Linked DNA regions of Homo sapiens. The protein of the gene in region 1 purifies or fractionates together with the protein of each later gene. This does not show direct contact. Each region holds a gene or a part of one and is shown on either strand. Other genes may lie near its edges. The genes, in order: FAM118B and DECR1.

Region 1 (15,836 bases):
GTAAGTTTTCTGTTTGTAAATATAATACATAATCATCATAGAAAATGCCAATACAGAAACCAAAAAATCAACACTTTAAATCCTACTAAAGATAGCCACTTAATTTAGTAAACATTCCAGATACATTTCTACACGCACCAAAAAAAAAAAAAAAATGTACAATTCTATATGAATATAGCTGACCATGGTATTTACAACCTGCTTTTTCTTCCTTTACTCATATGTCTCTAACTTTTTTTTTTATGGCAATGAAAACACTTTCCCTTCTATGGTTTCATTGTATTTCATCAATTAAATAAATATTGGCATATCTGTAGAATCTCCACCAATTTTAGGATCCTTCCAATTTTTTGCCACTACATTCAATGGAAATTACATTCCCACGCATGCATCTTTGTACAATTGTGTGATTGTGCAATCATCCAATTATCTCCTTATGAGAAACTTCTAGGATAAATTGTTTTGATGGGATTTCTAGGTCAAAGATTTGAAAATTTTTGTTACATCTTCTAATTTATGGTCATAAAAGTTGTACTAACTTTACCTTTCCACAAATACTCCATGAATAAATTTATTTTCTCACAGCCTTAGCCAAAATTGGGTGATCTTTCTTCGCTATTTTGTAATCTAAATTCAAACTGCATTTCATTGATAACTAGTGAGGCTGAACATCTGTTTTCTTCATTCTTCCTATGTCTATATTGAACTGCTCAAGTATTCCTTTTTGTCTGTCTTCCCATAATCCAAGTGGCACTTTAGTCTAACCTGAAGACTGTGGCCTCCTTTACAATTTGGTCAGTCATTACATTCCTCATCTTGGCAACTATTTTGCCCATCACATCACAAATACACAAAAGGCTGAAGAGCTGTTGTTCTCTGATTCCCCTCAGCTTCAAAATGCATCTTACCTGATGTACCCCTTGTGGAGATCTCACATGTCAGTCGCTTGAAATATTCTGGAAGATCGGCATAGTCATCTCCATAGGAGATGACTTTAATCCCCTTGTCCAGCATGTTTTCTCGAAGCTTTTTGAACTCATCTACGTCTCCTCTCCGAACCAGCATGAAATGTTCTAGGTCAGATTTATGCTTGACAGCCTCCAAGAAAAGGGCCTGGAAAGTGGTGTCATCCACAGTCCAGCCACAGCCCAGGAAAAGAAATGACTTGTTTTCGTAGAGTTTCTGAATTTCTCTCTGGAAGGAAAAGATACAACATATTGACATTGTGAAGACACACTCAAGGCAAGTCTGAAACAAGAAGGTCATGCTACGTTGAGCAGACTGTGATGACCAATTAAGCAAGACTTAAGTGGGTTGGTATGTCCCATCAAGGAGTGTGATCTCTTGCTTATTGCTGTAACTTGATGATTGGTCTAAAATTTTATCTTTACCTGCCATTCTTCTGTAGGCTCTCTAATCAGCGTTTCATAGAGCTGGTGTCAGTGTACTGGTGCAGTAGTTTACTTCTTTATTTTTTATGCTTTATATATTTTTTGAGACGGAGTCTCACTCTTTCACCTGGGCTAGAGTGTAGTGGTGTGACCTCGGCTTACTGCAACCTCCACCACCCTGGTTCAAGTGACTCTCATGCCTCAGCCTCCCGAGTATATTACAAGTGTGCACCACCACACCCAGCTAATTTTTGAATGTTTAGTAGAGACGGGGTTTTGCCATGTTGGCCAGGCTGGTCTGGTACTCCCGACCTCGAGTGATCCACCCACCTTGGCCTCCCAAAGTGCTGGGATTACAGGCGTGAGCCACTGCACTTGGCCAGTAGTTTACTTTTTTATTTTTATTTTATTTTTGAGACAGAGTCTTGCTCTGCCACCTAGGCTGGAGTGCAGTGGCATGGTCTTGGCTCACTGCAACCTCCTCTGCCTCCCAGGTTCAAGCGATTCTCCTGCCTCAGACTCCCAAGTAGCTGGCATTACAGGCACCTGCCAGCACGCCCAGCTAATTTTCCTATTTTTAGTAGAGACAGGGTTTCACCATGTTGGCCAGGCTGGTCTGGAACTCCTGACCTCATGTGATCTGCCTGCCTCAGCCTCCCAAAGTGTTGGGATTACAGGCGTACTTTTTTAGATTTATGTGCCCAGAGGTCATTGTGCAAAGAGTAGGTCTTCATATATCTTAATCCTTCCATTTCTGGACCATATTTGCCTTTGTCTCACAAACTGAACTGTGAATCACCAGAGAAGATAATTCCATCATCGGATTTGCTCAAGGAAAGGCGTTTGATACTTAGAACATCAGTATGTGTGTGTGTGTGTATACATATACACACACAAAAACACAGAAATGACTGCCTAAGGGATCACTCAATGTCAGAGATGGATGCAGTTATGGCAGATGTTGGGAAAGAATGGGTAAAAAGAAAAAAAAGTCCCTTGTGCTTTAGACAATACATTTTCTCGGTCTTTTGCCTCATTATTAAAAGATGCTATAATCTATATGACCCAGTCCTGAAAACAGCAAACAAGATTCTTAGAGCTGGGGGCAGCGAATACTTCTGGTTTGAACATGTTTATCTGAACAAGTCGAAAATGTGCATCCCAAAAGATCAATAAGCTTTTCACAAAGAGTAAGTGTGAATAAATGTGGTTAATTCAATATAAGCCCATTGCCATTTATACAAAGTCTCTTTAGAATGTATTCTCTAGTAGTGGTTGGTTTGTTAAGAAGCTGCCTCAATTATTTCTGACACAGAGAGGGCTATTAATAAACCAAATGATGATAAAGGGTACTAATGTATCCTTTGTATGTGAAGATGATGCCAATGATGACATGCCATCTGCTGGTTGTCAATTAAGTACAAACAAAGATCATAGGGTTTGACACCTTAAGAGAAATTCTACATTTCCTAGACAGCATGCACACCCATAAGTTAAGAAGCACAGGAAGAACGTCTGACTTTCCAGTTTCTTTCTTTTTTTAGAGATAGGGCCTTGCTCTGTCACCCAAGCTGGAGTGCAGTGGCTCTAGACACAGCTCACTACAGCCTTATATTCCTAGTCTCAACTAATCTTCCTGCCTCAGCCTCCCAAGTAGCTGGGACAGCATGCACCATGATGCCTAGCTAATTTTATTTTTGTAAAGACAAGAGTCTCGCTATGTTGCCCAGGCTGGTCTCGAACTCCTGGCCTCAGGTGATCCTCTCCCCTTGGCCTCCCAAAGTGTTGGGATTATAGGCATGAGCCACTGCTCCTAGCCCCTGACCTTCCGTTTTCACTTAATGAAAAGAAGATGTTCCCCTTTAAGATCTATGGCATATTTAGAGAGATTTCCCAGGAAGGAGTTCCTGAGACCAGCAAGATCAGCCCCACTCACCATGACTTCAGTGTTCCTGAGCACGTTCTGATATCCAGCCGGATGAAGGACAATGCCACTAGGGTTGGTGTAGACTCCGTGAATATGCAACACGCTCAGCTTACGCTTCTCCTGAGCCCACTCGAGGACCTGCACAACACACATATAGCCCAACCAGCTTGGCAGGGCTGAGCACCTGTTTAAAGGTCACAATGGGCAAGAGGCTGTTTTGAGGACTAGACTTCTGACATAAACTCTCTAGCTTCATGATATAGGACAAGAATGCAAAACCTGATGTGGTCTAAGTTTCCACTTCAGGAATGACTGTCAAGAATGATGGCAACAAATTTGGTGATTTCTCTTTGAAAGTAAGCATCAAAAATCACAATTTGTCATAATTTGCAGAAACAACAGGGACCCTTTGCACTGGTGGCATGCATGAGAGCTATGGACAACTGCTTCAGTGATCGCCCCAAGAAATCAAGCCTCTGTATCCAGGCCCTTGTGTGGCCCCTCTTCGGAGTGACTCCAGGCTAACCACATGGCTTGCTTTTAGCCAATGGGATACTAGCAAACACACACAAGCAGAAGCTTGAAAAGTGTTGGCACAAGAAGTCTTACTTCTCTTGTGTTACTTTTGGAATCCAGCTGCCATGCGAAGAAAGTGAAGAAGCCTGGGCTAGCCTGCTGGGACATATATGGCCTGGCCAATTGCTTGCAGGGAAGTATGGTCCCCTTATATCACTCAGCCCTGGTGCGGCCATCAGATGTCTGCAGGTATGTGAAGAGGGTGCAAAAATCAGCAGAAAAAATGCCTGGCTGAGTCACTGAGCCCAGTTCAAATTGTTAATATACTTTATCATGGGCAGATAAGATATTTGTTGTTACAAGCCACAAAGTTTCACGGCCATTACTTGTACAGCAATAGATAAGTGATAGAAAAATCACTTCAGTCACCTCTGAGGAACCTAAAAGGCTGCCAGCGAAGAACAATCATTTAGACAACAGCGAATGCAATAGCCACCTGATTCCATGGCTCCATTTTCCCAAGGACTGGAGACAGCATACATTTATTCTTATCACATTTTGGAGAAATAGGCTATGAATCAGGAAAGTAGTCAAGAGGCACCGAGATTTAGAATTTGAATGTTACTAGGCCCCATTCTGACTACCAGTCAATGTCTTTAACCATTAGACTGCAACACTGCCCCTAATGTGGGCTGAAAATACAATGCAAATCTTGAGGCCCAAGGATGAAATGAGAAGGAAAACATCAAATGTGATAGATATCCTCAGCTTTTAAAAGGTCCTTATGCTTCTGATATCCATGAACACACTTGGTCATAATCTTTGGAAATTTTATCACAAATAGCATAGAAGCTGCTAGTTTTAAAATTTCAATCATTTGTTTGTTTGTTTTTAGACAGAGTCTTGGTCTGTTGCCCAGATTGGAGCACAGTGGCGCAATCTTGGCTCACTGAAACCTCTGCCTCCTGGGTTCAAATGATTCTCCTGCCTCAGCCTCCCAAGTAACTGGGATTACAGGCGTGCACCACCACTCCCAGCTAGTTTTTGTATTCTTAGTAAAGACGGGGTTTCACCATGTTGGACAGGCTGGTCTCAAAATCCTGACCTCAAGTGATCCACCCACCTCGGCCACCCAAAATGCTGGGATTACAGACGTGAACCACTGTGCCCAGCCTATTTATTTAGAGACATGATCTTATGCTGTCACCCAGGCTGGAGTGCAACAGTGTGATCACAACTCACTGTAGCCTCGACTGCCTCAGCTCAATCGATCGTCCTGCTTCAGCCTCCCAAGTAGCTGGGACCACAGGCAAACACCACCATGCCCGGCTAATTTTTAAACTTTTTGTAGAGATGGGGTCTTGCTATGATGCCCAGGTTGGTCTTGAACTAGGCTCAAGTGATCCTCCCGCCTCAGCTTCCCAAAGTGCTGGGGTTACAGGCCTGAGCTGCTGTGCCCAGCCCAATCATTTATTAATCAAAAAAATATTTACCAAGCACCTAACTGTCATATTTGAGACATGAGGGTTGTATTTGAGTTATGAGGGTAAGAAAGACTAACATGATACCTATCCAAGTGAAGTTACTATTCCTATGGGGTAAACAGTCAGAAAACAGATAAACAGCCAAGATAAAAACTGTGCTGGGTGTGGTGGCTCATGCCTGTAATCCCAGCACTTTGGGAGGCTAAGGTGGGCAGATCACCTGAGGTCAGGAGTTCGAGACCAGCCTGGCCAACATGGTGAAACCCTGTCTCTACTGAAAATACAAAAATTAGCCAGACGTGATGGCGGGTGCCTGTAATCCCAGCTATTCGGGACGCTGAGGCAGGAGAATCGCTTGAACCCAGGAGGAGGAGGTTGCAGTGAGCTGAGATCATGCCATTGCACTTCAGCCTGGGCGACAAGAGCAAAACTCCATCTCAAAACAAAACAAAACAAAACAAAACAAAACGGCCAGGCACATGCCTGTAATCCCAGTACTTTGGGAGGCTGAGGTTAGCAGATCACCTGAGGTCAGGAGTTTGAGACTAGCCTGACCAACATGGAGAAACCCCGTCTCTACCAAAAATACAAAATTAGCCGGGCGTTGTGGCACATGCCTGTAATCCCAGCTACTCAGGAGGGTGAGGCAGGAGAATCACTTGAACCCAGGGCAACAAGAGCGAAACTGTCTCTCAAAAAAAAAAAAAAAAAGCTGCAAGTTAATACTAAGTGCTACAAAGGAAACGGACAAGAGACTGGATAAAAAAAATAAGTATCCAATTTAAATAGGATGGTCAGAGAAGGTCTCTCAGGAGGGGATCCCTAGGTTGAGAGTTATAAATGAAGAAGGAGCTGACCATACAGAATATGAGGGCGTAGGCGGAAGACACTTGGACCAGAGAAAACTAGTCTTCATGGGGCAGCTTTTCTCTAAATTCAATTCCCTTTAAATCCTGCCATCAAGGTCAGCAAAACCACAAGAGTGGTATTTCAGCTACCACTCTGGCAGGGGCAATACTGTAGTACTGAATGCCAGCAGGCAAATCACTTGTCTATTCAACTCTACTTAGTTGGGCTCTAAATTGGACATAAAGGCAGATTCCTGAGGAAAACAAAGTGTAGGAAAAAACATTACAAAAATCACAGAGTAGGACCAATGAGACTTTAAGAACTCATCTCATTAGCTGACACAGATCAACATCTATAATTCAATAATTATGGTAGGTACAGTATAGACTATGCTAAAACAAAGTCTGCTGAGGTTTCCACTAAACATTAACCTCAATTCAGCCATCGCTTGGCCTGGAAGTTGTTCTTCCAATCAGTATAAAGTAGTTTTCATACATTTCCAATAGATGCCATAAAAAAAGGTATCCTAAAATAGAACCAGCATTATCAATATTACACCACTGAATACTGTCAAGTGCTAAAGAGATCTTACAGTTCAAGTGACTTCCTCTAATCTTGCTTTAAAACTGGATGAAATTGTCAAGAGTCATAGAACTGAACACTTTTAAGTTCTATGCATTTTACTGTATATTGATTTGATCTTTAAAAAGAAAGAAAAAAGAAAAACAAAAACTCCAACCAGGGAAAAAATTTTTCCTTTCTAGCTCTACATAAATACCAATATACCAACTAGAAAAGAGCTTTTCTGAGGAAGATAAAATCCACTAGCCTGAAGAAGGGACCAATGCTTTACTTTTTACCTTTTTCTCATCAGTAAGGTCAAGGGATTCAAGCTGTTTCCCCTGATCTGCTGCATACAGTTCCAAGAGATTATCAAAATTTGTAGTTAATACGAGGGCTCCATTTTCCATCAGGTGGAGAACTGACTGAAGTAGCTGTTTTCCAGAATCTTCCATCTTTGACTCCAAGTCATCAAATACTTCATATAAACAGTCCTTGAAAAATGTGGATCGAACATTACTGGTACGCTGAGGAGGGATTTGAAAAAAGAAAATTAGTCCAAAGTGCTTTGGTAGGTCAGTTGTTTTAGTTACAGCAGTAACAAATTTTGGAAGAATATTTTGAATTCAAAACAGAGATAAAGGCCAGGCGCAGTGGCTCACGCCTGTAATCCCAGCACTTTGGGAGACCGAGGCGGGCGGATCACGAGGTCAGGAGATCGAGACCATCCTGGCTAACACGGTGAAACCCCGTCTCTACTAAAAATAAAAAAAATTAGCAGGGCGTGGTGACAGGCGCCTGTAGTCCCAGCTACTTGGGAGGCTGAGGCAGGAGAATGGTGTGAACCCAGGAGGCGGAGCTTGCAGTGAGCCGAGATCGCGTCACTGCACTCCAGCCTGGGCGACGGAGCGAGACTCCATCTCAAAAAAAAAAAAAAAAATCCCGGGGATAAAATATTATCTATCTCATACGAACGTAATAAGGAAGATGAGATGATACATGCCAAGTGCTTAGCACAATGCTTAGCAGATAGCAAGTGCTACTATACGTAAGCTTCCTAAAATAGGCATTTTTATAGAATGAAGAAAATAAACCTGGCCAAGGGATATGAATTTACTGTCGGTATTAAAGGGAAGCTGGGGTACAAAGCAGAGCGACAACTACCCTCTCATGAGGTGCCAGGTAAGAAGGCAACACTTTCCGTTCATCTTGCCTTATGTAGGGAAACGCCACTGAGACACAGCCCTAATTGTGGTTTGGCATCTCCTTTTCTTTTTCTTTTTTTTTTTTTTTTTTTTTTTGAGACGGAGTCTCATTCTGTCACCCAGGCTGGAGTGCAGTGGCGTGATCTCGGCTCACTGCAACCTCCGCCCCGCCAGGTTCAAGCAATTCTCCTGCCTCAGCTTCCCAAGTAGCTGGGATTACAGGCGCCTGCCACTGTGCTCAGCTAATTTTTGTATTTTTAGTAGAGACGGGGTTTCACCATCTTGGCCAGGCTGGTCTTGAACTCCTGACCTTGTGATCCACTCACCTCAGCCTCCCAAAGTGCTGGGATTACAGGTGTGAGCTACCACACCCAGCCTCAGCATCTCCTTTTCTAATCCTAGGTGTTTGTACAGCTGTTTATGAATTTAGGAAAAACTGCTTAACTTCTACATGCCATAATTCAGCAGTTCATAGGTTTATTCTGAAGAATATCCAGTATACAAAAGGTTAACGTAAACAATTTAATACGTTTTTTAAATTAAAAATTTGCATTTTGCAACTGTTGAAAACATCAAACACCAATCAGTTCTAAACAGAATCCCAATGTCTTGTTTTGCAGATGTGAGGTCTGGCTATGTTGTCCAGGTAGGTCTTGAATTCCTGGGATCTCAAGTGATCCTCCCACCTCAGCCTCCCAAAGTGTTGGGATTATGGGTATCAGCCACTTTTCCAGACCTCCTACTTCTTAACATACGGCTTACTTAAATAACTGCTTTTCAGATTCATTTTGAATACATGTAAATATCCCTGAGTACTAATGAGGAACTATAATACCAACTTCAGGTGGGAAACTGGCTTTACAACTGAAAAGACAAAGTGGCTCTTGGGACGAAGGGAATTTGAAATGGGAAAGTAACTATGTAATGTGATGTAATATCTGATCCCTAGCCTGTCTGTGAAATGCCATTTGCTAGGGTTTGGACTGGTCCCCTAACGTTCATGTGTTGGAAACTTAACCCCAACGGAACTGTGTTGGGAGGCGAGACCTAGTAAGACGTGATTAAGTCACGAGGGCCGTGCCTCCATGAATTGATTAATGTCATTATTGCAGGAGTAGATTTGTTATCCTAAGTGTGTCAGTTATAAAAGCGAGTCTGGGCCGGGCGTGCTGGCTCACGCCTGTAATCCCAGCACTTTGGGAGGCCAAGGCGGGTGGATCACGAGGTCAAGAGATCGAGACCATCCTGGCCAACATGGTGAAACCCCATCTCTCTACTAAAAATAAAAAAATTAGCTGGGCGTGGTGGTGGTGCCTGTAGTGCCAGCTACTCGGGAGGCTGAGGCAGGAGAATCGCTTGAATCCGGGAGGCAGAGGTTGTAGTGAGCCAAGATCGCACCATTGCACTCCAGCCTGGGCAACAAGAGCGAAACTCCATCTCAAAAAAAAAAAAAAAAAAAAAAAAAAAAAGTCAACTACTATTGAAGGTCAGATACTTTTTTAGATTTGTTATAAAAAATATGGTGCTCTTTTCTTGTCTACCCAAATCACAAATCCATTTGCCCTATGATCTAGCAGTCACATGTATCCTACAAATACAATTTCAAACAAATGAAATGACACATATGAGGTTATCACTGCATCATTATTTTATTTTATTTTTTATTTATTTTTATTTTTCTTGAGACAGAGTCTTGCTCTGTTGCCCAGCCTGGAGTGCAATGGCGTGATTTTGGCTCACTGCAACCTCTGCCTCTCTGGTTCAGGTGATTCTCCTGATTCATCCTCCCGAGTAGCTGGGACTACAGGTGCGTGCCACCACGCCTTGTATATATATATACAATATATATAATGTATTGATAGTGTGTGTCTGTGAGTCAGAGTACAAAAATATATATATAGATATACGTATCTATATAGATATACGTATATCTATATATATATATAGATATATATATATATTTTTTTTTTGAGATGGAGTCTCGATCTGTCACCCAGGCTGGAGTGCAGTGGCGTGGTCTCAGCTCACTGCAACCTCCGCCTCCTGGGTTCAAGCAATTCCCCTGCCTCAGCCTCCCGAGTAGCTGGGATTACAGGTGCCTGCCACCACGCCAGGCTAATTTTTTGTGTTTTTAGTAGAGATGGGTTTCACCATGTTGGCTAGGCTGGTCTTGAACTTCTGACCTTGTGATCTGCCCGCCTCGGCCTCCCAAAGTGTTGGGATTGCAGGCGTGAGCCACCGCGCTGGCAAATACGTACTACATTTTAACACCAGTTTTATTATTACACACACCGATAAAAAGGCCTGGGTATACAATCACATAATCATGGGTGTGGAACATATTTTCTTGCTTCTAAGAAAAAGAATAGAAAAGGTTAAAACCTGGGGGGAAAAAAATCCAGGTCACTTATTTTAATTAAGTATCTTTTAGACCTATTTAAGCTACTAAATCCTACATATCAACATAGGAAGGAAATATGATTCTGCAACTGCATTGATTTCCTCAAGATTCAAAATGGAAGTTTGTCTCTTTTTTTGAGAGAAAGTCTGGCTCTGTCACCAAGCTGGAGTACAGTGGCATGAACGTGGCTCATTGCAGCCTTGACCTGCTGGGCTCAAGCAATCTTCCTGCCTCAGTCTCCCAAGTGGCTAGGACTACAGGCGCACACCACCACGCCGACTACTTTTTAAATTTTTCGTACAGACAGGGTCTCACTATGTTGCCCAAGCTGTTCTCAAACTTCTGGCCTCAAGTGATCCTCTTGCCTCAGCCTCCTGTGTAGGTGGGACCACAGGCGTGTACCACCACACTAGGCTAATTTTAAAATTTGTGTAGAGATAGGGGGTCCCGCTTTGTTTCCCAGGCTGGAAAGTTTTTTTCTCTTAAAGCAGATGACCCTAGAACTAAATTTGCCACCAGTGGCCTTTATAAGCAAAGACAAAGGAATGAAAACATAAACAGGGAGGCTCAGTAGTCAGAAGGAAATGCCAAACTCCCACACAACTTCTAAGGGCCTTTTCCCATTCATCTAAAACAGTGACCTTCATTTCCTTCTACCCTGAAACTTAGTAAAAACAAGAAACAAAAAATTGGCATGGTAGCTCAAGCCTGTAATCTCAGTTTTTGGGAAGCTGAAACAGGAAGATCACTTGAGCCCAGGAGTTCAACACCAGCCTGGGCAACACAGGGAGACCCCATTTCTATTTAAAAAAAGAAAGAAAAAAAACCTGTTCCCCCACCGCCTCCCGCCCCAGGGTTATTAACATTTCTAGTGCATCAACTATGTGCCAGACATTTTATACACATTATCTCACCTATTCTTCACAAAGCGACACAAGGAAGTAATATCCCAGTTTCACAGGTGCAAAAACAGATGTTGACAAGTTAAGGGATTTGTGCAGGGTTCCAGTGCATTTAAGTGGCAGAGTCTGATTCCAAAACCTAAGCTCTTTGCAGTGAATCTGTAATGTCACTTCCCCAGTATACATTAAACTGGCTCGGTAGATAGGCCTGTTAACCCTGCCATAGTACTGCTGAGTTGATACTGTTAGATTTGATTCTTTTCTAATATGGACATTTCCAAACACACACAAAAGTCAGAAAAGTACATACAAAACAAAAACATAATCGCAATACTTCTATCTCACCTAAAAAATATTAATGTCTTAATATTAGTGTTTAAATTTCCCCTAAATATATCATTTTTATTATTAAGTTGTAATAGTTCTTTATATATTCTGGATACTAGATTTTTGTCAAATATGATCTACAAATAATTTCCTCCATTCTGTGGGTTCTCTTTTCTTTCTTTCTTTCTTTTTTTTTTTTTTGGGACGGAGTCTCGTACCTGTTGCCCAGGCTGGAGTGCAATGGCGCTATCTCGGCTCACTGCAACCTCCGCCTCCCGGGTTCAAGCAATTCTCCTGCCTCAGCCTCCCCAGTAGCTGTGACTACAGGCATGCGCCACCACGCCCAGCTAATTATGTATTTTTATTAGAGATGGGGTTTCACCATGTTGGCCAGGCTGGTCTCGAACTTCCGACCTCAGGTGATCCGCCTGCCTTGGCCACCCAAATTGCTGGGATTACAGGAGTTAGCCACTGCGCTCGGCCTCATTTTTTTTTCTTTTTTAGAGCCGAGGGTCTCACTATGTTGCCCAGGCTGAGGTACAATGACATGATCATAGCTGATTGCAGCCTCGAACTCCTGGGATCAAATGATCCTCCTACCTCAGCCTCCCAAGTAGTTGGGATTACAGGTACAAGCCACTGTGCCTGGCTCTGTTTTCACTTTCTTGATGACAACCATTACAGCACTTCCGTTTCAAAGTCTCATCATGTCCAATTTATCTAGTTTTCTTCTGTTGCTGGTGCCTTCAGTGTCTGATCTGAGAATCCTTTGCCATGCTGCCTTAGTTACTGTGGCTCTGTAGTAAGCTTTGAAAGAAAAAAAAATTTGAGTCTCCCTACTTTGTTCTTTTTCAAGACGGTCTTGGCTACCCTAGGTCCCTTGTAATTTCATATGAAGTTTTAATTTTTTTTTTTAGAGACAGGGTCTCACTATGTTGCCCAGGCTAGAGTGCAGTGGCTATTCAGACGCAATCCCACTACTGATCAGCATGAGAGTTTTGACCTGCTCCATTTCCAATCTGTGTTTGTTCACCCCTCTTTAGGCAACCTGGTGGTCCCCTGCTCCTGGGAGCCCAGAACTCCTGGGCTCAAGCCCTCCAGCAATCCTCCTGCCTCAGCCTCCCAAGTAGATGGGACTACAGGTGCATGCCATGGTGCCTGGCCCCATATGAATTTTAAATCAGTTTGTCAATTTCTACAAAATCAGCAGCTGGATCCTAATAGGGACCATGCTTAATCTGTAGACCAATTTGCAGAGTATTCCATCTTAATAATATTAAGTCTTCTGATTCAGGAACATGGCATGTCTTTCCATTTATTTAGATCTTCTTTCATTTCTTTCAGTGTTTTGTAGTTTTCAAAGCATAAGTTCTCCACTTATTTATTTATTTTTTGAGATGGAGTTTCGCTCTTGTTGCCCAGGCTGGAGTGCAGTGGAGGGATCCTGGCTCGCTGCAACCTCTGCTCCCAGGTTCAAGTGATTCTCCTGCCTCCACCTCCCGAGTAGCTGGGATTATAGGCACCCGCCATCATGCTCAGCTAATTTTTGTATTTTTAGTAGAGACGGGGTTTCACCATGTTGGCCAGGCTGGTCTCTACCTCCCGACCTCAGGTGATCCGCCCACCTCGGCCTCCCAAAGCGCTGAGACAACAGGCATGGGCCACCACGCCTAGCCTTCTGTACTTCTTTCGTTAAATTTATTCCTAGCTATTTTACTATTTTTGATGCCAAGTGGAAGAATTTTTAATATTTCATTTTAGTATTGTTCACTGCAAGTGTATAAAAATACTATTTTTATATATTGATCCCGGATTCTCCAACCTTGCTAAGCTTGTTAGTTCTAATAGAGGATAACCTAGGATCTTCTATAGACTAGATCATCACATCTGCAAACAGAGGCAGTTTACTTCTTCCTTTCCAATATGGATTCCTTTAGTTTTCTTGCTTAACTGCCCGGTCTAGAACATCCAGCACCATGTTGGACAGGAGTGGAGTGGGAAAACAGCCTTGTCTTGCTGCTGATCTTAGTGGAAAAAATCCAGTCTTTCACCATTAAATATGTTAACTGTGAGTTTTTCATATACGGTCTTTATCGTGTTGAGGTAGTTACCTTCTATTGTTTGCTATTATTCCTTCATTTGTAGAGTGTGGCTTTTTTAAAAAAAATCATGAAAGAGTGTTGCATTTTGCTAACATGTTTTTTCTGCACCTACTGAGAAAATCATGTGGTTTTGTCTTTTATCCTATTGATATGATGCATTATATTGATATGCAGACTTTTTTTTTTTTTTTTGAGACGGAGTCTTGCTCTGTCGTCCAGGCTGTAGTGCAGTGGTGCGATCTTGGCTCACTGCAGCCCCTGCCTCCCGGGTTCCAGCAATTCTCCTGCCTCAGCCTCCTGGGTAGCTGGGATTACAGGCATGCACTACCATGCCCAGCTAATTTTTGTATTTTTAGTAGAGACAGGGTTTTGCCATGTTGGTCCGGCTGATCTCGAACTCCTGACCTCAAGTGATCTGCCCACCTTGGCTTCCCAAAGTGCTAGGATTACAGGTGTGAGCCACCGCACCTGGCCTGATATGCAGATGTTAAACCAACCTTTCATTCCCCAGAAGACTCTGACTTCCTCATGGGTACTGCATTCAGTCTGGTTGTACTTTGTTGAGGATTTTTGTGTCCATGTTCCTAAGAGATCCTGGCTGGTTTGTAGTTTTCCTTTTTTTTTTTTAGAGGCAGACAGGGTCTTGCTCTGTCACCGAGACTGCAGTGCAGTAGCACGATCACAGCTCAGTGGAGTCTTGAACTCCAGGGCCCAAGTGATGCTTGTGCCTCATCCTTCCAAAGCGTTGGGCTTACAGGCCTGAACCACTGTGTTTAGTCATTTTCATTTCTTCTGATGTCTTTTGTTTGGTTTTGTTATCAGGATAATATGGGCCTCATACAATGAGTTGGAAGTACTCCCTCCTACTCTATTTTTTAGCATAGTTTGGGAAGAATTTCCTCTAGCCCTGTCAAGCAATAATCTACTTTCTGTTCTATGGATTTGCCTGTTCTGGACATTTTATATGAATGGAATCATACAATATATGTCCTTTTGTGTCTGGCTTCTTTTACTTAATGTTTTCAAGGTTCATCCATGTTGTTGTATGGGACGAGCACTTCATTCCTTTTAATGGCCAATTAACATTGCATGGACAGACATTTTGTTTCTCCATTCATGAACTAGACATTTGAGTTGTTTCCACTATTTTGGCTATTATGAATAACGTTGCTATGAACATGAGTGTACAGTTGCTGCATGAATATGCTTTCCATTCGCTTAGGTATATACTTATGAGTGCAGTTGCTGGTTCATAGAATCACTGTTCAACTTTTTGAGGAACTGCCAATCTGTTTTCCAAAGCAACTGCATCACTTTACATTCCCACAAAGGTTCCAATTTCTCCACATCCTTAATAACACTTATTATTGTCTTCTTGATTCTAGTCATGCCAGCGGGTGTGAAATGGCACCTTGTTGTGGTTTTGATTTGTATTTTCCTAATGACTAATGACGCTGAACATCTTTTCGTATGCACTTATTGGCCGTTTGTGTATCTTCTTTGGAGAAATGTCTATTCAACTACATCGTTATTTTAAAATTGAATTATTAGCCTTTATTAAGTTACAGTAGTTCTTTATAGATTCTGGATATTATACGCCTATGAGATATGTGATTTGCTAACATTTTCTCATTCTGGAAGCTGTCTTTTCACTTTTTTTTTTCTTTTGGTAGAGACAGGGTCTCACTATGTTGTCCAGGCTGGTCTTGAACTCATGCCCTCAAGCAGTTCTCCTGCCTTGGCCTCCCAAAGTTCTGGGATTATAGGCATGAGCCACCATCCCCGGCTCACTTTCTTGACAGTGTCCTTTCAGCCTAACAGTTTTTAACTTTGGAGAAGTCCAGTTTATCTATATTTTTTTTTACTTTAGTTTTTTGCATTTTTGGTGTCATGTCTAAAAAACCACTGCCAGATCCAGTCATGAAATTTTAAATCTGTATTTTCTTCTAAGAGTTTTACAGTTTTAGGTATCATATTTAGGTCTTTGATCCATTTTTAATTTTTATAAAGTGTATGGAGATTCCATGAACTCTTTAAAACCCCATTAATTCCTTTTTTTTTTTTTTTTTTTGAGACGGAGTCTTCCTCTGTCGCCCAGGCTGGAGTGCAGTGGCGCGACCGCAACTCAGTGCAACCTCCACCTCCCGGGTTCAAGCCATTCTCCTGCCTCA
Region 2 (15,836 bases), on another chromosome or scaffold:
CCAGAGAGCAGGAAAGAGCATCAGCTAGGCCCAGCTAGGCGGCGCCCTCGGCCGGACTCTGAAGGTCAGGGCCGCTGGGCGTCCACGCCGCCTGGGTCCCAGTCCCCGTCCCATCCCCCGGCGGCCTAGGCAGCGTTTCCAGCCCCGAGAACTTTGTTCTTTTTGTCCCGCCCCCTGCGCCCAACCGCCTGCGCCGCCTTCCGGCCCGAGTTCTGGAGACTCAACATGAAGCTACCGGCCAGGGTTTTCTTTACTCTGGGGTCCCGGCTGCCCTGTGGCCTCGCTCCTCGGAGGGTAAGGCGGCCGGGGGCGCGGGGAGCGAGGACAGGGCGTCTCGACGCGCAAAGAGAGAGGACAGGGCGTCACGGGGGCTCGGGGAGCGAGGACAAGGCATCCTGGGGCGCAAAGAGAGAGGACAGGGCGTCCCGGGGGTTCGGGGAGCGAGGACAGGGCATCCCGAGGCGCAGAGAGAGAGAGGACAGGGCGTCCCGGGGCCTCGGGGAGCGAGGACAGGGTGTCCCGGGGCTCAAAGAGAGAGGACAGGGCGTTCTGGAGCGCTAAGAGAGCACAGAGCAACCCGGGGAGCGAGAGAGAGGACAGGACGTCTCGGGGCGCAAGAGAAAGGGCAGGAAGTCTTGGGGCACAAAGAGAGGACCCGGCGTCCCTGGGGCTCAGGGAGCTAGGACAGGGCGTTTTGGGGCGCAGAGAGAGAGGACCACCAGGTCCCGGAGCGAAGGGCAACGCCGGGAGTGAGCACCGGGGCCCGGGTCGTATTCCACTGTCAGATGAAGCCCTGATGTGTGTAGGGGAATAGGGAAGAGACGTGATTTTCGAAGTTTTCACAGTTCTGCAAGTTTCCAACTTGTGTGTAAATAGGTAGAAAGAGGTAGGGAAGGATACGGCGCCCGTCCACCCCTTAAGGAGTGAGAGGGGATCAGGCCGAGCGAGCACTGACCTTTGACGTCCTTTGTTGTGAGGAAAGTCCATCTATGTGTTAGTTATGGAATTAAACACTAATACAAACAAATTATCATAAAAATGAAACAAAAACAAAACCCCAGCTGTTTATAGACTCCCCTTCCCAGATGTATAGCTGGGAGAGGTCCGTCTCACACTGGCTTCCCCCTCTCTCTGGCCCACACTCCTGTCACCATCTCCATTGCACCCATAGTGGAAATAGCTAGGAAGTGAAAACAGCTAGGAAGAAGAAAGAGAAACAAAAACAAAAAGAAGCAATAATATCCAAGACAAGCCCTCCCCACATCTAAATTACAAAATTGTTATAAGTAAACTAAAAAGCACATTTTCTTTAGCCAGGTAGAAAAATTAATATGTCAACTGTGAAAAAACTTCTTTTGATTTGATAGAATAGACAGCCATGGTGTTGTTTTTCAAAAAATATGGGCAGCAGTAGTTCCAAATAGGAATACAAAGAATTAGTATGGTGGTTCCCTCAAGTAAGGTATCTTTCTTTTAAAAAGTGAGATTTGTTCAGGGTTAGGGTTTTGCTGATTTTTTTTCTCTCCCTGTGAAAACTGGGTTATAGATCATTATAAAGGAAGCCCATATTTTCTGATACTTTTCAGAGACATTTCTCATTTGAAATCTACAACAGCTCTGTGATGTCTTCAGAGATTTCATTTTTTAACACACATCATTAGGATTGTAGCAATAAGGTCATACAGACCTTATCCAAGCTCTTCTGACACCATTAGACAATACAGTTTGAGAAGGAGAAAATGAACTCATTTAAAAATTAATTGTAATCTGACAATTTTGAAATTCCTTTGCTGAAGAAAAATATGGAAGTTTTGAGGTTCAGGGTTGGGAGGCAAGAGAGGTACCTGTTAGTGTGGTTTGTCCCCTTCCTAGCACATGTAGCCTCAAGTTTGAATTCCTGGGAGAAGAAAAGTCTTTACATCTGTGATGTGGGAGGTTGTTCCAGGGAACATCATGTTTTTGTGGGCAAATACAAGTTGTTATAATTAAAACCCCTAATTTGAATATTTTTGTTACCAAGAACCAAGGCAAATGTTTAATTTGTTATAAAACCTGTTTGTGAAGTGCTGTGTTAAATTGTGCTGCTGGCTAATAGGCCTCATTTCAATTTAATAAATATTTATTGAGGACTGGCTTTATGTCTGGCCCTGTGCTATGCCCTGGGACTCAAAATTTAAAAAATACGAGCCCTGCTCTCAACTGTTCTCAAGTTGCTCTCAGTTCTATTGAGGAAAACATTCAGTCATTCAGTTGTTTATGAGGAAACACTAATTAATTAAGTACCTATTAAGTATTGGGCATTCTTTGGCAATTTGTGGTTGAAAGACATTCCTGCCTTCAATGTACTATAGTCTCATATATGTATTTTAAGCCACAAATAATAACCAATGAGTAGGCCTTGAAATCAATTTAGTGGAGCAAAACAGCACTTTGGGAGGCTGAGGCGGGTGGATCATTAGATCAAGAGATCAAGACTATCCTGGCCAACATGGTGAAACCCTGTCTCTAGTAAAAATACAAAAATTACTGGGTGTGGTTTCACACGCCTGTAGTCCCAGCTACTTGGGAGGCTGAGGCAGGAGAATCGCTTTAACCTGGGAGGCAGAGGTTGCAGTGAGCTGAGGTCGCGCCACTGTAGTCCAACCTGGCGATAGAGTGAGTGAGACTCCATCTCAAAAACAAAAAAATGGAATAGAATAGGATATATCTAAATTCATCTCATGTAGTAAGGTTGTTCATTTTGTGAAACTTTAAAAAAAAAATTTACCATTCTTCCTTTTTTGATTCATTCTTTGATTACTATCATGCACACTGCCATGTTTCTTTTCCTTTTGTTTTTATCAAGAGTAATAACTATCCAACCTGATCAACATGGTGAAACCCTGTCTCTACTGAAAATATAAAAATTAGCCGGGCGTGGTGGCGCGTGCCTGTAATCCCAGCTACTCAGGAGGCTGAGGCAGGAGCTACTCAGGAGGCTGAGGCAGGAGAATCACTTGAACCTAGGAGGCAGAGGTTGCAGTGAGCCAAGATCACGCCATTGCACTCCAGCCTGGGCAACAAAGTGAGATTCTATCTCAAAAAGAAAAAAAAAAAAAAGAATAGTAACTATCAAGAGTAAAATCACTATTTTTAGAAAAATGATTCCTGGCCAATATTCAGCAATACAGTTAACAAAGTAAGATATGACCTCAAACTGGCCACCTAGAATTAACTTGGGTTAGCATTTGGTGTATATCATTCCAGGCATCTGTTCTGGTAAAAGGATGGATAGGCATAATTTTACTTGGATGTCACATTTTCCCTTAGTCAACATTGTTTCATTGTTTTCTCACGATGAATATTGTCTTGGAGCAGTATAAAACCAACTAGATGTGTTTTCTTTATTTTTTTTAAATCTGGAAGCCTAAGTATTTCTTTATTCAGTGTAAAATTCTGGAATATAAGCTCTATGCAGGCAAAGATTTTCAACTGTTTTGTCCACTGTTTATACCTAGAACAGTGCTTAGCATAGAGTAAACATGTAACAAATATCTGTTACATGAATGAACGTGTGTACTGTGTTGCTATGAACATGTGTATGTTGCTATATAAATCACATTTCTTGCTATGGTTCACAGTCAGAAAAATCTGAAAAATGATAGTCTAGTGAGTCACCAGCAGACATCAATAGACTGTGAAGATGCAGATGTGTATTATAATGCATATATGACCCAAACTGTACATACCTAGAGGAGGCAAGGAAAGCTTCATGGAGGAGGTGGCCCCAGGAGCCTGCTGTTAAATCAGGAGTTGGAATTTGTGTGGTCCCAATGGCAATATAGACCTAAGGAATAGCATGTATCAAGAAGTGAAAGAGTGGCTTATTTATAAAAATTCAAGTGGTTTGTTTGGTATTGTGGAGTTGGTGAAGTATGGGAACAGAGAGAAGCGTGTGGAGACGAGATCAGTCAGGTTGCTGGGGGACAGGGTATGGTGGGCTTTTCTTATTTATGTAGAAAATTGAGCATTTACTATTTGCTAGGCACCTTACTAGGGATATGAAGGTGAGAAGAAGAGCTGATTCCTGCTGTCAAGAAGCATAGAGTCCAATGGCATTATGGTATGATGTGCCGCATGTTAGGTTGGGTGTTCTTGCTTTTGGATGGGATCCCAAATAAATAGCATCCGTTTTTTCCAGTCTGAAAAATGAGTAAAGATGGAAGCCAAAGTATCACTTTTATTGTGGTTTGTGAGAGGAAGCTGGGCCTATCAGCTGGATCTCCCGAAGTAGGCGGACTTACATAACTCTGGAGGAGGGCAGAACATTGTCCTCTGAAGGCAGCTGGCTCCCAAAAGGAAGAAGACCAAGGAGAACTGTTCATACCCAACGATCCTGTCAAAATTTACCAGTCATATCAACTGTCTCTGCACAGACAGATTGTACCTCAGTCTGTGTTGCTATAAAGGAATACCTGAGGCTGGGTAATTTATAAAGAAAAGGGTTTGTTTGACTCATGATTCTGATGCCTGGACAAGTTCAAGACTGGGCATCTGCATCTGGTGACGGCCTAAGGCTGCTTGCACTTGTGGCAGAAGGTGAAGGGGAGCTGGAGTTTGCAGAGATGGAAGTGAGGGGGTGTTGGGAGGTGCCGGCAAGAGAGGAAGTGAGAGGGTGTTGGGAGGTGCCGGCAAGAGAGGAAGTGAGAGGGTGTTGGGAGGTGCCAGGTTCTTTCACAACCTGCTTTAGTGGGAACTAATAGAGTGCAAACTCACTTGCCACTGCCAGGATGAAGATGGTACTACGACATTCATGATGGATCTGCCACCATAACCCAGGCACCTCCCATTAGACCCCACCTCCAACATTGGGGATCACATTTCAACATGAGTTTTCAAGGGACAAACATCCAAACATCCTTAGCAGGTTGACTAAGGGGACAGAAAGAAGCCTGGAGTTGTACTACCTGAACTTCTCACAGTAGGGAGATGTCAGGACTGGGGAAGAAGCATCTCCTGCTCATGGGGGAGGTATGTCCAGTTTTATGAGAGTGTTGTTGTTTGGTATATATCAAAGCTGAGACCTGAAAGATGAGTAGGAGTTAGCCAAAGGGAGAGATGTAAGAATGTTTTAAACAGGAGAGTAGTCTATGTGAAGGCCCAGCATAAAGGTTATCAACAGAGAGTGGGGAGGCAGGAGGTGAGAGACAGCTTAGTGAGCAGCCTGTTGGCTGCGTTAAAGAGTTAGAACTTTGTCCTGCAGGGTGGGAGTGGAGACAAATGGCTAAACCCTGAGTAATCCTCTCATCTGTTGAGAGGTGATGGTGGCCTCAACGAGGGCATGCATTGGGTTTGGAGACACTCAAAGTTGAGTGATATTTAGGAGGTAAAATCAGAGGCCTTGGTGATTGGTTGGTGGTGAGGATGAGAGATGGGGCTATGCTCAGTGGTGACATGTTGCCATCAAAATTGTGAGCAGAAATACGATATCATCAGGTAAGACTGGAAGTAGGGAGACCAAACATCCAAACACCAGTGATGAGGGTCTGAACTGAGGATAGCATTAGAGCTACTGGGGACTAAAACGAACTGGGCTTGGTTTGAATGTATGGGGTAAGATGAAGCCCAGATTTCTGTCTTTGGCCCCTGAGCTAAGGACAGTGCCACTCTCTTGAGTGAGGACATTAAGTGGGGGCTGGAGGGAGAAGAGGAGTAAGTGACATCAGTCCTGAAATGTCAGTAGGGTCTGGGACTCCTCAAGTGGTATATAGATAAATAAGCTACAGAAGTAGAGGAGAGAATGTTAATTCTCCCTGGGAGTGTTAGGGAAAGCACCAGAGCTCTCACAGCTGGGTTTCAATGATGAATGTTGGGTGATGATAGGGAGCAATTTGTGTAAAGACAGGAAAGTAGGAAAGAGTTCATGTTTGGGGAATCCTGAGTACTTTGTTTTCCTGAGTGTAAATTTCAGGGGAGATGAGGCAGAAGAGAGGGACAGGAGCTAGGTCGTGAAGACATATGCTATGGGGAGCGAAGGAATCTGGATATTCTGCAGCTACCAGGAGCCCTTAGAAGATCTTAAGAAGAGAAGTAACATGATCCCATTAGCAGTCCTCGGAAGATCAGTTAAAAGATGACACAGAATAGGCCCCCAATGTTTGTGAATGTTGTGAGATAGGGGTTTGAAATCAGGTGGTGGATATAGAGGGACACTGGGGAGGTAAAAGGCATGGGGCTTATAGACGGATGGGATGTATCAGGTGAAGAGGAGAGGGAGTCACCAAGGTGGGGCAGGGCAGGGCAGGTGGTGGGGGTGGGGTTAATGGATGAATCTTGGCCTTGTAGCTTAAGGATGCATTTGAAGAAATTTCAAACAAACTTCCTGCCCAAACTACAAAGCAAACTTTATATTATTACAAAAAATAATCTAGATCTCAGATATCTCCCAAAGGTCATGATAATGACATCAAAAGAGGGGGGAATTTTAAAGTTATCCAGAGTTTCTTACAGCCCATGGTAGAAAGCATGCAATAGATGTTTAGCAACTTTTAGTTTTTGCAGAAAATTCTAGGTAGAAAATGATCAGCATTCTCAGCTGTCCTGCGCTCTTCTCTTCCTAAGTTGATGAATCATTCTGAGATTGAAGTGCCAGGGTAATGATAAGTAAGTCTAGAATACAAGGTCAACTGCACTTTTATCCCTTCCAGTCTGGGAAACCCTCACACTGCATTGTAACATAAAAGCAGTGATAGAACTGTAGGCTTTCATAATTGCTGGAATGATGAAATGATGTTGCCATTTACCTTTAGCCCTAATTTATTCTTCATGCTTCAAAACCATATTTCCTACTGCAGCTTAGATATCTCTACCTGACTATTCCAGAAGCATCCCAAGTGCAGCATTTCTGATGCAGAACTCATTATCCTCAATGCTCCAACTTGGTCTTCTCATGTCAACCCAGTCATTTCAGTCAGAGCATCACTCTGCATGCAGCCACTTAAAACTAGAACTCAGTTACCTTCCACAGCTCTCACCTTACTTGCCAGGTCTGGCTGGTTGGGTTCTGGGTTCAGGCTAATTTACATGTTAAATGTGTGTGGAATATGTTGTCTTCTCTTAATTTCTACTGCCCTCGGTATCTCTCATGTACACTTAATGACTTCTGTCTGATGAGTCTCCATTTCCTTTTTTCTGGCTCACATTTAAATCTTAATTTTTCTAGAACACAAAGGCAGTGCAGATGTAACAGGGATATTGAGGTAAAGATGAGAGAGGTAGAAAAATCTCTCTCAGTTCTTTTCAGTAAACAGGAGACCTGTTTATATGCTGTTAATGAAACAGGCAAAAATGTGATGAAATAGATCAAGAACAAAAGTCCAAGCTCATGTTGTTGGGCAAGAGGCAAGAAGAAATCATGGATCTAGTGGATATCTTAAATATCCTGACTTGATCATTACACATTCTATGCATGGAATAAAATATCACATGTACCCCATAAATAGGTTAAAATGTTATGTATTAATAAAACATTAAGAAAAAGAAGAAATAATTGGACCAGGCGATATTAGGTACAGTGGTGACTCATTACGTCCTCATTTTTTGGGACCTTTGCTCTTGCAAGTAGTTTTATTTGCTAACTTCCCACCAGTTCACATGATAGCATCCTGGGCTAAGCATCACCATCTCTTGCCTGGCTTGTTATACAAGTGTCCTAATAGTTTCCCTGCTTCCAACCTTGCCCTCTACACTCCATGGCAGCCAGAACAATCCCCTTAAAACTTAAGGCAGATCATGTCCATTCTCTCCTTAAAACTTAGAAGATGTTTCCCACTTGCCTCAGAGTAAAAGCCTAAGTCTCCGTAGTGGCTGACTCAGCCTGCATGGTCCAGTCCCCTTTACCTCACTGACCTCTTCTCCTGCCCCTGTCTCCCTCCTTCCTTCTTCTCCAGCCACACTGGCTTCCTGACTGTTACCCCATCCATAAGCATGCCCCCTGCTTAGGGCCTTTGCTCCCAATCCCTTTTGCCTAAAACCCTGTGATTCATTCTTCTCCTTCACGTCTTTGCTCCAATGTCACCTTCTCAATGAGGCCTTTGCTGATGACTCTATTTAAAGTAGCAATGCTCTATCCCTATTCTCTGCCTTATTTTTTCCCCACACTACATATCAACTTTTAATATACTACATATTTAACTTAATTTCTTTATCCCTCATTCCCCCAAGGATAATCTTGCTGAGAATAGAATATTGTGTCTGTTTTTTTTTTTTACTGCCGTACTGCCATGCCTAGAACAGTGCCTGGGGCTTAATATATGCTCAATAAACACTTGCTTAAAATGAATAAATGAATAAACTCTATATCCATCATAATGTCATGTTTATCCCTAATACTTTTTTATGTAAGCAAATTCCCAAAACAAACTCTTTGCAAGAGCAGAGATTCTAATTTTTGGTTTAAAAAAGATTGTCATTATAGTTTTGGTTAACATGATAGGGGATCAATAAGAGATGACTCAAATCAGAGGCAGGCAGGAGTGAAGACCCTAGCTGAAAATTTCAAATTGCCTCTTAGGTCTGTGATTTCATCTCTTTTTATTTTGTTGTATTGGAGAAGCATCTGTTCAGTCTGCATCTAACTGCAGACAGATAACCACTGTAATAAAATGAGATGTACACCCTATGGCATAGAGCACCGACATTTTCAAGGACTCATGTTCACTGATACAAAATGTATCATTCCTCAAAAATGTAATTTCTGTCTTGCTCCTGGCAACTGCATAATTCAGCTTAGCCATTGGAGCTTGGAGTCCAGCTGGGCAGTTTCTTTTATATTTGTTTAGCCTTACCTTCAGGTTGCTGTGGCAACAAGATCTGTGCTCTGCGGAAGCTGAGAATATCAGTGGCCTCTGTTCAGTGCCCTGCTATAAGTTAAGGAGCAGGCAGATGTGCTTAAGCAATCTACACAGTCATGGAGCATGAGTTAACGAGGCCTGTGGCAAGCTTTTGGTGTGGTACTCAGTTATTTTAATGTCTGCAGGGCAACTGTTGGCATTTGGGGTGAGACAGTTCTTCATTCTGCAAGGCTGTCCTTTTCTGCACTGGAACATCCAGTAGAACATCCCACCAAACTATCCCTTGTATTACCAGATACCTCCAGCTAAGGACCACATACACTGTGCTGAAGTGGCAGTGGTGTGGCCATTGGAAAGAATGCACGCATGGCCTTCTAGCAATCGGACAAAATAAATTGGGAAGTAGTTATGGAAGGCTTCCTGTATTCAGGGAGTACATAAGGTGTTTTGGGAATGCAAAGATGTACACTTTTGAAACTCATCCTTTGAAAAATATGGTTGTCCAGTGTTTACCACGCTGATAGTTTAATATGGCAGTTAGGGCCCAGTCTGCAAAACTCTTATGTGAATTCCAGTTGGAGTAAATTTGATCTAAAAAATATTGATTCAACCTGAACCAACAGATACGTAGAAGCTCCAAGAAAATAGATGTGGAAATATTTCATTATCTTTATAAATATAGCTCACACTTTAGTGTTTAATATAGAGTAGTTATGCTTCAAGTAAGGTATATGTCCTTATCATGAAATTGATTCTAGGCCATTTTTTTTCTTGCTCTGTTTTCCTCTACGTACTTCTTGTATTGTGTGCTTGCCTATATGATTCAGTTTTCTGTTAGCTATTGTTAAAGAAAAAAAATTTATGAACATGTTGAACATTCAAGCAATATAAAAGGATATGCAGTGACAGTGTAATAAGGTTATTATTACTATGGTTATTACTATGAATAGGTTCTTGTGGATACTTCTGACAGTTTTTGTGCATATGTCAACATATGTATGAAGATATCCTCATTTTAAAAAACCACATGAAGGGGAGCCTGTTACATGTATTTCTCTACCTTGAGTTTTACACTTAACACATAGTGTCTCACATTGTTGGTATCCAACAAATACTTATTGAATAATTAAAAAATAATACATCTATAGCAATGTTTACAGTCAGCATATACATTCCAGCTCCTTCTTTTGGTAGATAATAGATCCATATAACTGTATTTTGTAATATAGATGTGCTCTAATTCATTGGCTATGTCCCCTAAGGAAACACACATAGATTGTTTTGTAGTCTTTCTATTACAAACAATTCTTTAATGAATCTCTTTGGCTATTTTGAGTCTCTTGCATTTTCAAAACAATTTTAGGATAAGCTTGTCGACGTTCACAAAAAGCTGATTAGGATTTTGATAGGGATTTTGTTGAATCTGTATATCAATTTAGGAAGTGTTGTCCTCTTAACAAAATTAAGCTTTCCAGTCCATGAACATATAATGTCTTTTTGTTTACTTAGGTCTTTAATTTCTTAATGATGTTTCATAGTTTTCAATTTATAAGTCTTGTACTTCTTTTATTAAATGTATTAGTATTCTTTTCAATATGATTATAAACAGAATTGTTTTCTTAATTTCATTTTCATCTTAATGTATATCTTTGATCATAGCTCCTTCTCCCCCTGCTTCTTTCCCAAATGAATGAGTATTTCTTTTAGATAAATTCCTGCATGTGGATTTGCTGGGTCAAAGAGTATTTGTATCTAACATTTAAAAAAATGTTGCCAGATTGGCCTCCTAAGAAGTTGCCAGAATTCTTATCAACAGATTGTAAGGGTGGCTTTAATCAACTGTTTCTTGTATTATAGATGATAAAATTTTGAACCTTGCTGGTCTGGTAAGAGAAAAATTATGTCTCCTTTTGTTTAAATATGCTTATTTAGTTATAAATATGGTCGTATATTTGTTTTTTGTTTGTGTGGAGTACCTTTCTAAGCCCTTTGCTTAGTTTTTCTATTTGCAAGTAACTCAGTACTTGTATAGATTGATTTAGATTTTCTTTTCTTTTCTTTTTTTTTTTTTTAAGAGGGAGTCTTGTTCCGTTGCCCAGGCTGGAGTGTGGTGGCACGATCTTGGCTCACTGCAACCTCCGCCATCTGGGTTCAAGAAATTCTCCTGCCTCAGCCTCTCGAATAGCTGGGACTACAGGCGCATGCCACCACGCCCGGCTAATTTTTGTATTTTTAGTAGAGATGGGGTTTCACCATGTTGGCCAGGTTGGTCTCGAACTCCTGATCTCAGGTGGTCCACCTGCCTCGGCCTCCCAAAGTGCTGGGATTACAGGTGTTAGCTACCGTGCCCGGCCTGATGATTTAGATTTTCTATTCTTGGGCTTATTCTAATGTTTAAGATGTCATAATTTAGGGTCATTGGAAATGACTAATTTTTTAAAACAAGTGGCAAAAGCTGGATTTCAATCATATATTCACATAAGACTACATGTCTGTATCCATGTGCTTTCTAATGCAATTGGAGTCTGGCCAACCAAGTGTTACATTAAGTAAGACAAGCATTTACCGAATGCCTAACTGGTGCCAGAAACTGTACTATAGTGATGAATATAAGGTCGTGTCCCTGGCTTCCTAAGCATCCTGATATGTTGAAATGAATTGTGGCAACTCCTTAGCAGGCCAATTTGGAAGCCTTCCATTTGCCTGTTTTTAATAGGGTACAATTTAAAGTGTTGACAGAGATATTGACAATGTTGTCTGGTTTTGAAGGCCAATTCTGCTGGGTTGAGAAAGACAGTGGGTGGTTCAGGCCAATGAGAAAGCAGGAGCAAAGGCCAGAAGGTGAAAGTAGTTGGCAAGTTTTTGGAATTGTGAGGGCTTGGTAAGTGTAGAGTTTACTTCTACATGGCAGATCAGTCACGAGGTGGGGCTAGGAAAGTATTAATACGTTGGCACCATATTGTCCAGTGGCTTGAATGCCATGCTCAAGAGTTTGATTTTTGTCTTTTTGACTTTGGAAGGCATCCATGTTTTTGAGGAATGGAATTTTAATGTGGAGGACCCATCCATAGTGATGATGATGACGACGATGATAAATAGCTAAACTAAGTGCTCAAAAGATAACTCATTTAGCCTTACAACTTCCATATGAGAGACTATTATTGTATGAGTTTTATATATTTGAAACTGGATCTTCTTAATAATGTACCTAGCACACACATTAAACAATGATTTTTGTAGAAATTTGTTTTAAATGAAATTTAGTTGTGGTTCCAAAATAAAAGCCTTGCCTCTTCTTTCGTTTTTTTTTTTTTTTTTTTTTTTGTATTGGTTTCTTGTGTGTTACTTACAATAGGCATCTAGGAGTCACATACTCAGAGGCCTAAAGTCCTTGAAGGCCTTGTTTATGAAAGGCCACCCAGTGAAAAGGGCTCACTTTTCCTGTGTGAGTCGGGGCTGGACAGAGCTCAGGCCTTGTCTCAAGGGGGCAGTCGTAGTTGTACTTAATCATGTGGTAAGGTGTACCCAAGTGTTGGTAGAGCTTCTGACTTTTATGTGAATTCTTCCATTATCTAAATGTTGGCTCAAGTTTTAAAAACTTTGGGCTCAAGTTTTAAAAACATATTTGGCCTAGAATCACTAATCTACTGTTATTTGAGATATTTACCCTAGACATTTTAGACTAGCCAAAATATACTTAAGTAATTTAGGTATATATCTCATTGATATACAGTCCTTATCCTTGAGGGGAAGGTGCAGTGTCAACTCTCAGAACTGCCATTTTGAAGATTAAAAGTATGATCATGTCTCATTAGTTTAGATGCTGTAATTTTGGAATACATGAAGGAGGAAGCTATTGTTTATATGATGTAGGAGAGGGATGAGTATGGTGAGGAAGGTAGGTGATAGCTAATTTTTTGAGGGAGAGATTTAGAGCTTGTAACTAAAAAATAATTCTGTATTGCCAAAGTTGGAAGACTCTAGAAAGTTTTAAGAATTTTAGGTCACTAAAGATCTCAAGAGAAATCAATCTTGATACGAAAGGTGTTATTTATATTTTTGAAAAAAACTTATTTCTCTAAAAACCATAAAGCAAGACTTGAAAATCTTTAAAAGCCTGTTTTGTATCTACTTTTTATAATTCAAAAAAGCCCAACCAAAATACTGTTTAAGGTTATTAAGGATGCTTCCTTGTAGAAACGGGATTGAATATGATGTGATCCTGTGAGATCTGATCATCTCAATGGGTCTTAAGGTTGAAATGAACATCTTCCTTTTAGGCAGAGAAGATGGCTTGAATTTATATTAACACATATGCTGTGTATTGTCAGAGGGTAATGAGAATTAAAATAGCTTATCAATTTCTTCACTTTGGTTTGGTGAGGAAGTGGAATCATAAGGTTAGTATTGATCAGATCATATAAGATAAAAATGTGCTATGTAATAACCTGTTACATTATGGACACTAGGAATTATTTTTACCACATGTGACATTTTTACCTTTATATCCTTTTCTCTACCAGTGAGGAGGTTGAGGAAATGTTTTAAAATAAATTTAAAAAGAAAGTTTGTATGCAAATATCTTGTTTAATTATTTTCATGAAGTCCCACATCAAATCCCCTATACACATTAACATTAAAAAGTTAAAAATTATGGGAAAGCCTTCAGAAAATTAGAATACATTTTTTTCATTATTATTACTTAATGACAAATTTACCATTCTACTTGAGTGAACTTCTTGATTCATCATCTTAATGTAATAGTTCTGAAGGCAGGTGGCAGCTTTAAGGAAAACTGCCACTTATGTAGAAAAAGATTATTGTAGAGTTGCTTGGATTACTGTGCTTTGGCAAAAGGATATGAAAAGAAAATGCTTTGTCAACATGAAGCTAAAATAAATATGATGACTGGCATGGAGCATAACAAGATTTACAAATGTATCTTCAATTATTTTATACATGATCTCAAATTTTGTCTTTCAGTAACTTTTTTTCTGCTTGTAAAGATCTAATCATACTTATTGGATAGATTTGGAAAGTACTAAAAACCAATCAAACAAACAAACAAAAAAAAACAAATAATTATCTATAATCTCATCACTTAACCATAACTGTAAAGTAATGGGTGGACTCTGAAGTCAGACAGATACTGGATTTAAGTCTTTATTCCCTATTATTATTTATCTTTAACAGCTAGCTACTTGACCTTTCTGTGCTTCAGTTTTTTTCATCTATAAAATAGAAGTAACAATTGAATTTACCTTATAGAGCTGTTTTGAGGACTGTATGGTAAATATTGAATCTACTACTTACTGTTGTTATTTCCTTCTAGTCTTTTTTTCTAAGCATATATTTTTATTTGTAGTTAAAAACATACTGTATATTTGTTTCTTTTTTTTCATTTAACATCACATTATAAACATTTTCTTGTGCAATTTCCAGGTGATGAACAGCCTCCTTCTAAATCATTGACCACATTTCTTATTCTTTCCTGAGGATAAATTTCAAGATATCCTGAACCAACTGATGACAGCCTATTTAGCTACAGGAATACTCTGGAAGGAAATGGTAGCTTCTGGAGTTTTAACTGGAGTGTTAATCTTGCCACCATGACCTAATGGAATATCACATAACCTCCCTGGTGTGACCATTAAGCTTAGCAGGATCTCAGAGAATAGACAGAGGAATATGCAAGCTGGTTATCAGAGAAGGCTCTGGAGCCTGTCAGTCAGTTTGAACCTTGGTTCTGCAACTTTGGCAATATATATATTTTTTATCACTCTGAGCCCTTTCTGTACAATAGGATAAAACTAATACCTATTTCATGTGGTTGTTTGGAAGATTAAATAGTTTGATATGTAATCCTGGCAGGTGGTAACTACTTAATGAATGTTAGCTCCTATTGTTCATTATATTAGATACCTAAAGTTTGTTTTATGATTAAATGCGAGAGAATGGCAGTGATGTTCGCATGTAATGTGAGTACAAGCTGTTAACATATAAAATAGGGCAATACAAATATTTTTTACTCCGAAATGGATTGATTTTCCTCCCATTTAAAATAAATAACAGAAATATTCTGTTTTATGTTTTGTGGCCAGAAGCTAGCATGGGAAGAGGCATTTGATTTAATAATCCTTATAGAGAATTTTTAACAATTTTCTTCAGTAATTCAAAGGTGGAAAGTGATTTTTGTCCAGATTATTCTTGTTGAAAGACAAAAATGCTTTATGTTAGTTTTTTAAAAATTAAATTTGGTCGGGTGTGGTGGCTCATGCCTGTAATCCCAGCTCTTTGGGAGGCCGAGGTGGGCAGATCATGAGGTCAGGAGATCGAGACCATCCTAGCCAACATGGTGAAACCCTGTCTGTACTAAAAATACAAAAATTTAACGGCGTGGTGGTGTGTGCCTGTAATCCCAGCTACTCTACTCGGGAGGCTGAGGCAGGAGAATCGCTTGAACCTGGGAGGCGGAGGTTGCAGTCAGCCAAGATCATGCCACTGCACTCCAGCCTGGCTACAGAGCGAGACTCCATCTCAAAAAAACAAACAAACAAAACAAAACAAAACAAAACCAAAAACCAAAACAAAACACAACAATTTAATTTAAGCAAAACACCTGCAGCTAATAATGGTAGCATTTGTAGTGCTTACTATGTGCTACACACTGCTCTAGGTGCTTTACCTGTAATAACTCATATAATCCTCACAATGCCATATGAAGAAATTTATTTTATTGTCCCCATTTTGTAGATGAAGGAACTGAGGCACAGAGAGGTCAAATAACCTGCTGAAAGTTACATAGCTTGGGAGAAAATTCTGTGCTATGTAGTCCAGCTCCAGAGCCTGTGCTTTTTAAATCAGAAAACAAAGAATAATAATTAAGTACAATACCAATATGTTTGCAGTGAGTTTGTGTTAATACAAGAATTTGATTACTATTAAATTCAAGAGCATGTTTTAAAAAATTCATCTGTTTTTTGGAAATATATGTATGCAAATTTA

What was found.
Region 2: the proteins of FAM118B (region 1) and DECR1 purify together in Homo sapiens (affinity purification with mass spectrometry; 2 studies listed by BioGRID and IntAct, with this or other methods). This does not show direct contact.

The regions. Positions count from the first base shown.
Region 1 is NC_000011.10:126,241,925-126,257,760, reverse strand, and holds part of FAM118B (protein FAM118B), read right to left. Parts: intron 7,256-15,836; coding exon 7,028-7,255; intron 3,503-7,027; coding exon of another isoform or gene 3,457-3,502; coding exon 3,328-3,456; intron 2,611-3,327; exon of another isoform or gene 1,195-2,610; coding exon 909-1,194; coding exon of another isoform or gene 891-908; intron 1-890. UniProt on the Homo sapiens protein: May play a role in Cajal bodies formation.
Region 2 is NC_000008.11:90,001,268-90,017,103, forward strand, and holds the start of DECR1 (2,4-dienoyl-CoA reductase [(3E)-enoyl-CoA-producing], mitochondrial isoform 1 precursor), read left to right. Parts: upstream 1-209; 5' UTR 210-225; coding exon 226-294; exon of another isoform or gene 295-4,102; intron 4,103-4,180; exon of another isoform or gene 4,181-4,968; coding exon of another isoform or gene 4,969-5,010; intron 5,011-14,273; exon of another isoform or gene 14,274-14,357; coding exon of another isoform or gene 14,358-14,399; intron 14,400-15,836. UniProt on the Homo sapiens protein: Auxiliary enzyme of beta-oxidation. It participates in the metabolism of unsaturated fatty enoyl-CoA esters having double bonds in both even- and odd-numbered positions in mitochondria.